Linked DNA regions of Homo sapiens: region 1 is linked to region 2. Evidence: fine-mapped expression QTL. A gene starts in region 2. The other region holds a variant in brackets. All regions are shown on one strand. Distances are between the middles of the regions.

Region 1 (5,385 bases), 500 kb after region 2:
TTCATGATAAACCAGATGCTGCCAGTGATATCTTGGCTGGGTCCACAAGAACTATCAAGTGCCGTGAAAGGAACATGGGTTTTAGAGTCCAAGACTCTGGGCTTGCATGCTGGCTCTGCCCCCATGTGTGCCCTTGGGCACTTCTGAATCTCCTCTTCCTCTTCCTTTTCCTTTTCCATAAAAAAGAAATGATAACCAGCTTGAGAGGTCATGAGGATAAGATAAGCTAAGATTAATGAACTTGTCAGGTACACAATGGCAATGGGAAAATGCTAGCTTCCTCCCTTCTCCTGAGCAGCTGGACAAGGAAGGGGGTGGGCGTCAGGGGGAGCTTGGGCAGCAGATGTCACATTTCAACGTGTTCCTCCCTAGCTCAGGCTGCAAGGCCTGGGCACTGAGCCCACTCCAGCCTGAATTCTCCCGACAGCTGCTCAGCTTCTCTACTTGTCCTTGCTCATGACTCCTGATTGAACCAAGAAAAGCCTCTGCTTTGCTCCAGTGACAAAAAAATAAATAACAAGAATGATGTAACATGTGTCTCTCAAGGCCATCAGCCACAGAGAAAGTCCAGGCTTCCGGATCTGTACCCCAAATCCACACCAGGATTCCAAACCAATCCCCTGCTGTCCCGTGGATTCTGGTAGCTCCTGTGTTAACCCTCTACCTGCAGGCAGCTCTGCCTCCCCCTTGTCTTGTGACCAAGGCCACCAACACTGTCACTGAGGCACAAAATTGGCTGGAGGCAGGAAATGAGTTCCTAAGCACTAAGTCTTTGCAACCTGATCTTTAGTAATAATTTATTACTACATTATACTAGTTTAATTAGTAATAACTAATTATTAATACTAATTAAATTACTGGTTTATTCAGCAATAAATAAATAAACACTTATTGAGCACAATATGCCAGACACTCTTCTAAACTCTTTATGTTAACTTTTTTAATCTTCACAAACACATTTTGAAGTAGGTACTGTTCATAACCCCATTTTACAAAGAAAAAACTGAATTTTAGGGAGTTTAATTGCTGAACCAAGGCCACAGAATTGGTGAGTTGCAGGTAAAATTTGAACCCATTTCTGCAGATGTCAAGTTGTGTTTTTTTGTCTTTCCATCATGCTACTGACACCCAAACCAAATGAAACTGGCAGCCCGGATTCTTTCAGAGAGATGTTGTAAAAGAGTTCCCCCAGCAACCTCACCTGTTAAACCCCCAAATTAAGTCTGAAGAGCAAAGCAGGAGTCTGACTGCTCTTCAAAGGGAGAGATGTCAGGAAGCATGATGTAGTGAAGCCTCTCTCTGCTAGGTGCTAGAAGTGTACTCCTAGACCTGTCAGCGGCCCTCTTTGGTATTCAGGATCTTCATCTGTAAAAGGAGAAGATAAAAGTAATTTGGCTTCGACAAGATTCCTTCCAACCCTGACATTCCATAATCCTATGAAACAGCTACCATTTATTATTTCCTCTGTGCCAGATACTGTGCTGAGTATTTCACATAATCGCAAAATCATCACAGCCAACAAATAGCTGTGATGGAGCTGCAAATGATGGAGCACTGCTTATTTGCCAGGCTCTGCTGTAAGTACTTGCCCCTGTATTATCTCATTTAATCCTCAGAACAACACTAAGAGGAAGGTATTATTATCCCCACCACCCTCAAGGATCTAAGGCTCAGAAGAATGATACAAAGCTACTCAAAGTCTCCCAATCATTAAGTGCTGCTCTTGGGGTTTGAACCCAGATTTTTCTGACTCCATAACCCATGCTTTTAATCACTGTACTACTTCAAGTGCCCCCTCAACGTCAGGCAAGGGCAGACACCAGGAATAGGCTGTGTTGGTTTTTGGTTGCCCCACTGACTATCCATCTGCAGTTGTTTTTCTTCCATTCTGATCATCAATCATAGTGTGACTTAAATGGGTCAGGATAAGGAGTCCCCAGCTGCCATGCACAGCCACAGCAGCCACTGCCCACAGTCCTTTCTGTGGGCTTTCTGGGCAGCATTAGTGGAAAGTCCTATCTGTGAAGTAAACTAACAAGATTGGGGGAGGGGTCCCCTTATTTATTTAATCATCACTCCCCAAGGCTAAACTGGTGGCCTGGCAACAGTGAGTATTTTCTCTGAGCTCAGAAGCCAACTCCAAGTGTTCAGGGTGAACAGGTTGGGAAACTTGAGAACCACACAGACATCAGGAAAAATTCCGTGAGTGGTTGTCTGTGGTGAAATGATGATATGGCCCTGAGTTTGCTCTCCCCAGGAGAACTTGGAAGCTGCCCCCTTTTCCACCTCCCACCTCACTTGGAACTAAGTAAACCAAGAAATTCTAGGAAGCAGCCCAACCTGAAAGAGCTGGCTTCTCCAGGAAAAGAGAGGGGAGGGTGAAGAGACCCAGGGTCTGTCCGTCCCAAGGGGATGGTCAGTCACAGAAGTCACTGACCAGCACTCCAGGCCAGATCTCACTGGTCCGGCCACAGATTTTTCTAATCCTGTGAGTTGAAC[T/C]GCACCCAAATGACTGCAGATGGGATCAGAGATGGAGGTCTCACCAGTCAGAGGAAAAGCATCCAAGTATCAGGAGAGATGCATAGTTCTAAGAGGAGCCATCTAAAAGCAGGCAGAGTTTGAAAGAAACTTCCAATTAAAAAAAAAAAATGCCTTTCTGTGAGGTCACTCCCTGTGAGGCAGGAGAATAGGGTCTGGAGGCAGGGAACATAAAGCCGATTCATGCTGACTTCCTAGAACTAAATCAAATGGAAACACTTCAGCTATGACAGGAAATACCCTCTCCATTTACACAGGGCATACACTGAGTAAATGACTTTGTAACTTCTTTGTAACTTTGCTTCTTCCTCTTCATCTACATAGGGTGTAACCAAGTAACCAATGGAAACCTCTAGTGCATATTTAAACCCCAGAAAATTCTGTAACAGGGGTCTTGAGCCCCTGTGCTTGGCCCGCTCCCACCCTGTGGAGCGTGCTTTCATTTTCAATAAATCTCTGCTTTGGTTCCTTTATTCTTTCCTTGCTTTGTGTGTTTTGTCCAATTCTTTGTCCAAGATGCCAAGAACCTGGACACCCTCCACTGGTAATAACTACAACCAAGGTCACCACATCACACTACCTGTACTTTGCTCCCCAAAAACAGTTGCTAGCATTTATTCAGAACCTTCTCTGTTCTATCAGTTAAAAAAAAAAAAACCCTAGTAATTTCTGGAACAAAATCACAAATATACTCACTTTCACAAACAGTGTAGACATGTCAAGAATCCTATTTCTTACCCACAAGAGGACCAGTCTTGTCCCTTTACTGTGTGTTTTTGATTGCACTGGTCACTAAGTTTTTTCTCAGCGAAACAGCACCTTATCAATACATCATTGGTATAGGTTTGTTGGCTTTCAATCATAGTGGTATCATTTTATTCCTGGGCCCCAAGGGAATTTGGGGCCACAAGGATCTGATTTCAAACTTCAGCTCAGCCATTTTATTTCTTCAAGACCCTAAACAAATAACCTATGCTTTCTCAGCCTTAGTTTTCCCATCTACAAAAATGGAGCTAGTCCTAGCACTACCTACCTCAAGAAATTGTTACAGGAGGAGCCAAGATGGCCGAATAGGAACAGCTCCGGTCTACAGCTCCCAGCGTGAGCGACGCAGAAGACGGGTGATTTCTGCATTTCCATCTGAGGTACCGGGTTCATCTCACTAAGGAGTGCCAGACAGTGGGTGCAGGTCAGCGGGTGCGCGCACCGTGCGCGAGCCGAAGCAGGGCGAGGCATTGCCTCACTTGGGAAGCGCAAGGGGTCAGGGAGTTCCCTTTCTGAGTCAAAGAAAGGGGTGACGGGCGGCACCTGGAAAATCGGGTCACTCCCACCCGAACACTGCGCTTTTCTGAAGGGCTTAAAAAGCGTCGCACCACGAGATTATATCCCGCACCTGGCTCGGAGGGTCCTACGCCCACGGAGTCTCGCTGATTGCTAGCACAGCAGTCTGAGATCAAACTGCAAGGCGGCAGCGAGGCTGGGGGAGGGGCGCCCGCCATTGCCCAGGCTTGATTAGGTAAACAAAGCAGCGGGGAAGCTCGAACTGGGTGGAGCCCACCACAACTCAAGGAGGCCTGCCTGCCTCTGTAGGCTCCACCTCTGGGGGCAGGGCACAGCCAAACAAAAAGACAGCAGTAACCTCTGCAGACTTAAATGTCCCTGTCTGACAGCTTTAAAGAGAGCAGTGGTTCTCCCAGCACGCAGCTGGAGATCTGAGAACGGGCAGACTGCCTCCTCAAGTGGGTCCCTGACCCCTGACCCCCAAGCAGCCTAACTGGGAGGCACCCCCCAGCAGGTGCACACTGACACCTCGCACGGCAGGGTACTCCAACAGACCTGCAGCTGAGAGTCCTCTCTGTTAGAAGGAAAACTAACAAACAGAAAGGACATCCACACCAAAAACCCATCAGTACATCACCATCATCAAAGACCAAAAGTAGATAAAACCACAAAGATGGCGAAAAAACAGAACAGAAAAACTGGAAACTCTAAAAAGCAGAGCGCCTCTCCTCCTCCAAAGGAACGCAGTTCCTCACCAGCAACGGAACAAAGCTGGATGGAGAATGACTTTGACGAGCTGAGAGAAGATGGCTTCAGATGATCAAATTACTCTGAGCTACGGGAGGACATTCAAACCAAAGGCAAAGAAGTTGAAAACTTTGAAAAAAATTTAGAAGAATGTATAACTAGAATAACCAATACAGAGAAGTGCTTAAAGGAGCTGATGGAGCTGAAAACCAAGGCTCGAGAACTACGTGAAGAATGCAGAAGCCTCAGGAGCCAATGCGATCAACTGGAAGTAAGGGTATCAGCAATGGAAGATGAAATGAATGAAATGAAGCGAGAAGGGAAGTTTAGAGAAAAAAGAATAAAAAGAAATAAGCAAAGCCTCCAAGAAATATGGGACTATGTGAAAAGACCAAATCTACATCTGATTGGTGTAACTGAAAGTGATGGGGAGAATGGAACCAAGTTGGAAAACACTCTGCAGGATATTATCCAGGAGAACTTCCCCAATCTAGCAAGGCAGGCCAACGTTCAGATTCAGGAAATACAGAGAACGCCACAAAGATACTCCTCGAGAAGAGCAACTCCAAGACATATAATTGTCAGATTCACCAAAGTTGAAATGAAGGAAAAAATGTTAAGGGTAGCCAGAGAGAAAGGTTGGGTTACCCTCAAAGGGAAGCCCATCAGACTAACAGCGGATCTCTCGGCAGAAACCCTACAAGCCAGAAGAGAGTGGGGGCAAATATTCAACATTCTTAAAGAAAAGAATTTTCAACCCAGAATTTCATATCCAGCCAAACTAAGCTTCAAAAGTGAAGGAGAAATAAAATACTTTAC
Region 2 (5,385 bases):
TAGGCCATTTTACTAAAACCAGTTATGGCTAAGCATGTAATGAGCAGCACATATGGAATAGACAGATTGTTCAAAGTAAGTAAATTGTTCAATAATTTTAAGACAGTGTTTTTATTTCATTTAATTTCTGGAAAATGTGCTAATTTATAGTGTGTGTATAACTTTTTATTGTAAAGTTACTGTGCACTAAGGTAATACTAATATGTGCAGTAGTTTTTGAGCATTACGGCATTAAAATATCATGCAGTGCAGAGTGAAATTACTCATTGTATATGTGCCTTTACACACTGAAAGACATCTGATGTCTCTGCCCTCAACTCCCTAAACATCAGTAGTGACTCCTAATCATTGTGACAACCAAATATCCTACAAATATCCCAAGTGCTCCCTCTGTGTGGCACTAGCTCCACTGAGACCCCTGCTGTATATAACTGGGCACTCCCATCTCTTTGATCTTATCTTTTACCATTGTCCCCTTTGCTCTCTCCTCTCCAAGCACACTGATTTCTTTGCTGTCCTTCAACATGCCAGTCACACTCCTTTTCTAGGGCCTTTGCATCTGTGACTACTTCAGCCTGAGATGCACTTCCCTTGTCTGGTGCAATTATTTGCTTTCTTCCAGTCTCCATTTAGACGTCTTATTTTACTTGAAGTTTCATATGATCACCCTCTATGAATATGGACATTCTCTACTCATACCAGCATTCCTCCTCTCTATCTCATCCTATTTACTTTACTTTTTCTCCATTTGTTTTTGTAGGACAGGACAGCATAGTTATTTAGCATATGATATCTAAAGTTAGACTGCCTGGTTTGAAAAACTGTTACTTGCTAGCTTTATGTCACTTAGCAAGTTACTTAATTCTATATGCCTCAGTTTTCTAGTCTGTTAAAAGGAGGTGACAGTACCTGTCTAAAAAAGATTGTTTTAAGGCCAAAAGACTTAACACACATAAGGAACTTAGAGAAGTACTTAGCACATAGTTAAATACCATATATATTTGTATTATGATTTTCTTACACAGTATATGTTTATTGACTGCCCTTCTCTGCTATGAAGTAAGCTCCATGACAGCAGGAACTTGGTGCAATGCTTTATGCCTAGGGCTACGAGAATGCCTAGAACAAGCTGGGTGTGGTGGCAAACTTCTGTAGTCCCAGCTACTTGGGAGGTTGATTCAGGAGAATCACTTGAGCCCAGGAGTTTGAGAACGGCCTGGGAAACATAGCAAAAGCCCCATCTCATAAATAAATAAATAAATAAATAAATAAGTAAATAAATACATGGAAAAAAAGAAGAGTGCCTTTTTAAGTATCTTAAGAGTAGATGCTTAATGAGTATTTACTGAGTGAATAGTCATAAAAATTACATTACATAAAACTATGGAATCAATAACACTTTTTAAGACTTCCTAAAAAGTGTTCATTTGCCTGAGTGACTTTTGAAGGCTAGAATAATGTTTTATACTCATATAGCTTACATATTTAAAAAAAAATAGGTCTCTTTTCAGTCTCCTGCAGTGACTTTAGGAATGATATTGGATAATGAAAATAAATACCTTATTAATAGAAACTTATGTTTGATCACATTTCTATATAGAGCATGCAAATTCAATTTTGAACATGATGTCTTCATTGAGAATCATTGTAAAGCCAAAACACCACTGCCTCATTTCCCTCACATTAAATAATTCCCATATTTGTATTATTTAGCAATTCCTTTCGTTAAAATGTTTTGTACTTTTCAAAAATGTTTCCATTTCCTCATTAAAAATTAGTCTTATTATAATTTGTATTAAAATGCCCTCTACTCTCTGACGGAAAGGCCACTAAGTAGAGATACAGAAAAAATTAGGTTCTCAGGTCACTTTACTATTCAAAAATCTTAACTAAGTCATTTATCTGTATCTCAGTTTTCTTAGCTGGAAAATTGCCGTACTCATGAGAAATGTTCTGTTTGCTTTTCAGAATGATGACGTTCACAATAATAAAAAATAACATCAGCCCTCTTTATTGCAAACCTCCTACAAATGAGGCCATACATTAAGTGCTCACATAGAGGTTCTCATTTGATCATTAAAATAGCCCTGTGGGATTGTCATCATTATTTTCCTTCTACAGATGGGAAAATAGATATGTCTGTCTCCAAAGCTTAGGCTTTTTACAAAAACATTTTAATGTCTTTCTCATAATGTGTAATTATCCTGAAAATCAGTGAGTGTTCTTCAACTACCAGGTGCTATCATCAAGAGGATGAGAAAAAAAAATTAGAGAAGAATGGAGAAATCATCTTACCTCATAAGTGCTGGTGATACCAGATCTGTAGAACACAGGGAGAAAGAGCTCTGATGTTAAGAGGATGACAAATAGGTAAGCAATGAAGAAGACTAGGAAGGATGCCCCAAAGCGGTAGACTTCAGAAGGGGTCCCCAGGACCGTGACAGCTGACATGAAGCTGGCTGTCAGAGACAAGCCGACAGGGCCAAAGCTCATTTGCCTTCCCCCAACCAGGAACTCTCGGGAAGTTGCCTTTTTTCTCTCCTTAATGGCAAAGAACACCCCAATTCCAGAGGAAATGAAAAAGAGGGCTGCAAATACAACATAATCCCAAACTGCAAAGTTCTTCACCTCCATATTGGAAAGTATGACACCAGAGAGTTTCTTTCAACGAGGTCTCAGGAAGAAGATGTTTCCAAAAGCAAAGTTCAGTACAGTGGATGCTTTGCTGAGAGGAGAGACTGTGATTCCCTGAAGAAAATGATTACCAGAGGCACTCGTGTGAATCTTCAGACACCAACGTGTACTTAGTGAAGATCTCAAAAGTTGACTTCAAAGAAGAATCTGGTGGTGGTATTGGCACCAAGAGATGAGAATTTGAAATCTGACCCTAGCTAAGAGCTGTCTGCTCCTCTCCTAAAGCATATGCCACAGAGAAGGAATTCAGATGTGTTCTGAAATTAATAACCACTGGGGGTGGAATGGACTGGCCAGATAACATGCTGTTTTATCTCTTAGATTTTTTTTAACTTAAGGTTAAACATTTCTGGGAAACATAGAATTGATAACAATTTACCACCTCAGCATTTTTAATTCGTGAGATGGAATCTGTAAAATGCAAACACAATCCTCAGCAGTGTCTTCCTCTTGAAGAAGGGAGAGTGAAGGCTGTGTGCCTGCAATTGTCTGAGGCAGTGGATGTGGAGAGAAAGAAGCAAAGGACTAGGAATTCAGAGACCTTTGCTCGAGTCCTGGCTCAACCACGAGAAAGCCATGAAACATTTCATAAATCATTTAACATTTCTGAACTTCACCTGGAACACAGGGATAATAAGACCTTACAAGGTCTTTAAAGACTTAAGTCTTAAACTTCCTGACTCTCTTTGTCTTGATCTGTAAAATGAAAGGTAATAATATGTACCCCATTGGCTATTATCTGTGCTTACAGCAGAGCACTCTGGAACATCATAGCTTTTCTTTCTTTATTCTAGGACCTAGAAAAATCAATTTGCCATTAATTAATAAATTATTTATAGCCTTCAACTTTATCTTGTCTTTCTCTTATTTTCACCAGGTTACTATCACTGTACCCACAGGCTAAGTTAGAATTAGGACCAGGACAAATTAGAGAAGGAAGGTAACAATCCAGTTATAAATTCCTGTTTCTGCTCTCTTTAGACTCTGTCAATTGTTCCAAAGTACCTCTAGTGCAATTTCTAATTTTGTTCATGCTTCTCCTCCTTCTTCAGTGGCCTTCTCCATCCCCACCTCTACAAAGCTTGTGTATTCTACAAGATCTAGTATGAGTTTTCTCTACTCTGTGAAGCTTTTCTGCCTCTCCACGTCAACTCCTGTAGAACGTAGCCTCCCTAGTACTCATTTTGTACTCAGCCATCATCTTGCCTATTTTAGGGAATCTCTATGTAACCGGCTACAGGAGTCTGTCAGCTGTTCAAATGACATTTCCTTGAAGACAGAAGCAAAGCTCTAGTCCATATACCCAATACATTATAGCCATTGTAGAAAATAAAAAAAATAATTTTTAGAAAGGAGAAAACTAAAATTATCCATAATGCCCAAAGACAGAAACATTTCCAGCCAAACAATAAAACAAAAAACGCTCTAATTTTGCTTTTCACATCTGGATAACTGAATAAATCTTTGCTTCATGAATTTGAATTAGACCAAAGAAAGGTTTAATTAGATAGCTAAAGTATGCTTTTAGTTACCAATAAAAATATGAAGACTCTCCCAAGAGCTGTCTGTGTCCTCTGTTTAAATTCCTCCACTAGATTTGGAGATTTGATATGATAAATGTTACTGCAAATCTTGGTCTTTAATATATTTACCTTAACCTGGGCTTTTAATTATTTGTATCATGAAGTATTCCAATTATATATGAGGTTTTTGTTGTGATCTCAGCAGAAAATCAGAACTTTTTTAGCTTTCAGAAACTTGACTCCTTTATAGTTTAATATTTACACTACCTAATGGTTAATATTCAATCTATAAAACATGTAATCCCCTTGTATAAGTCAGGTTAAGAATGGTTCAAAACATTATCATCAATAACTTTCTAAAGGTACATACTAGAAACCTATAACAAAAGAGTTAATGAGTACTGATGGTTTTAATTAAACTTTGTGTAGTAACAGTATTATCTGCATGACTCCAATTAGTCTTGAATTTTGAAGTGGTAGGGAGCAGATTGGTTAATACCTGGGATATGAAGAAACCTTTATGCCTCTTAGGAAAGTATTCCTTGCTTTCAACATTTTGTTGATTATAAGGCACAGCATCAATTCAGTAATTTAATTTTCAGTTATTTTCTACATATTTACCCTTTTCTCCCTTTGGTAGCATTCGTTGTCCTCAAACGCTCTTCTTAATTCCATAAAGACTCACTCCATGCAAAGTTCATGCAGATTGTAAAGCACAGCAGCAATTCATAACTTTTCAGGTGAAAAAAAAAAAACCCCAGTACATTCAATGACCTCATTAATTAGAAGGCACATTTCTATATCAGAAATGTTAATATAGCGAGAAGGAGGGAAAATATGCTTCTTCGACCTGAAGAAATCCCTGTAGCGCCTCTACCCTCTCTCATGTGCACAGAATACTGCCATTTGTATTTGACTCATTTAGTGTAAGGCTTGAGACCCTGTCAGAATATAAACACCATCACCTGTTACTCATACATGGCCTTAACAAGGTCCTGCTACTCAATTACTCACATGCTTAACAAGTTAAATTTGTAATTGCTAACATTAGTAGTCTCCGCAAGGTAAAATAGTTCAGCAATTTGCATGCAACAAGTTGTAATGGGAAAGAAAGAGTTTGATGATATCAAATGCTACCAAAAGAGAAAAAGGTAAAGAACTGGAAGAA

Alleles and levels. Positions count from the first base shown, and alleles are read on the strand shown. Sizes are in standard deviations (SD) of each study's normalised expression.
For the expression in spleen of the gene that starts at base 2,980 in region 2, C is the high allele of the variant in region 1 and T is the other (moderate effect, 0.50 SD a copy in GTEx).

Evidence for each region. PIP is the estimated chance that this variant, and not a neighbour inherited with it, causes the effect.
Region 1: its variant is the best candidate, but not a certain one, in a credible set for the expression of SLC5A12 in spleen (GTEx, PIP 0.53).

What each region holds. Positions count from the first base shown.
Region 1 is chr11:27,216,116-27,221,500 of GRCh38, forward strand. It overlaps BBOX1-AS1 (BBOX1 antisense RNA 1), which reads right to left and starts at 2,653. Exons shown (of 4, transcript NR_125768.1): 1 at 2,544-2,653; 2 at 1,202-1,365. LOC105376600 (a long non-coding RNA gene) reads left to right here and starts at 3,630. Exons shown (of 4, transcript XR_931141.3): 1 at 3,630-3,683. RefSeq lists an enhancer at 1-228. The variant T/C (reference allele first, on the strand shown) is at 2,500.
Region 2 is chr11:26,719,081-26,724,465 of GRCh38, forward strand. SLC5A12 (solute carrier family 5 member 12) reads right to left here and starts at 2,980. Exons shown (of 15, transcript NM_178498.4): 1 at 2,296-2,980. The coding sequence starts at 2,634.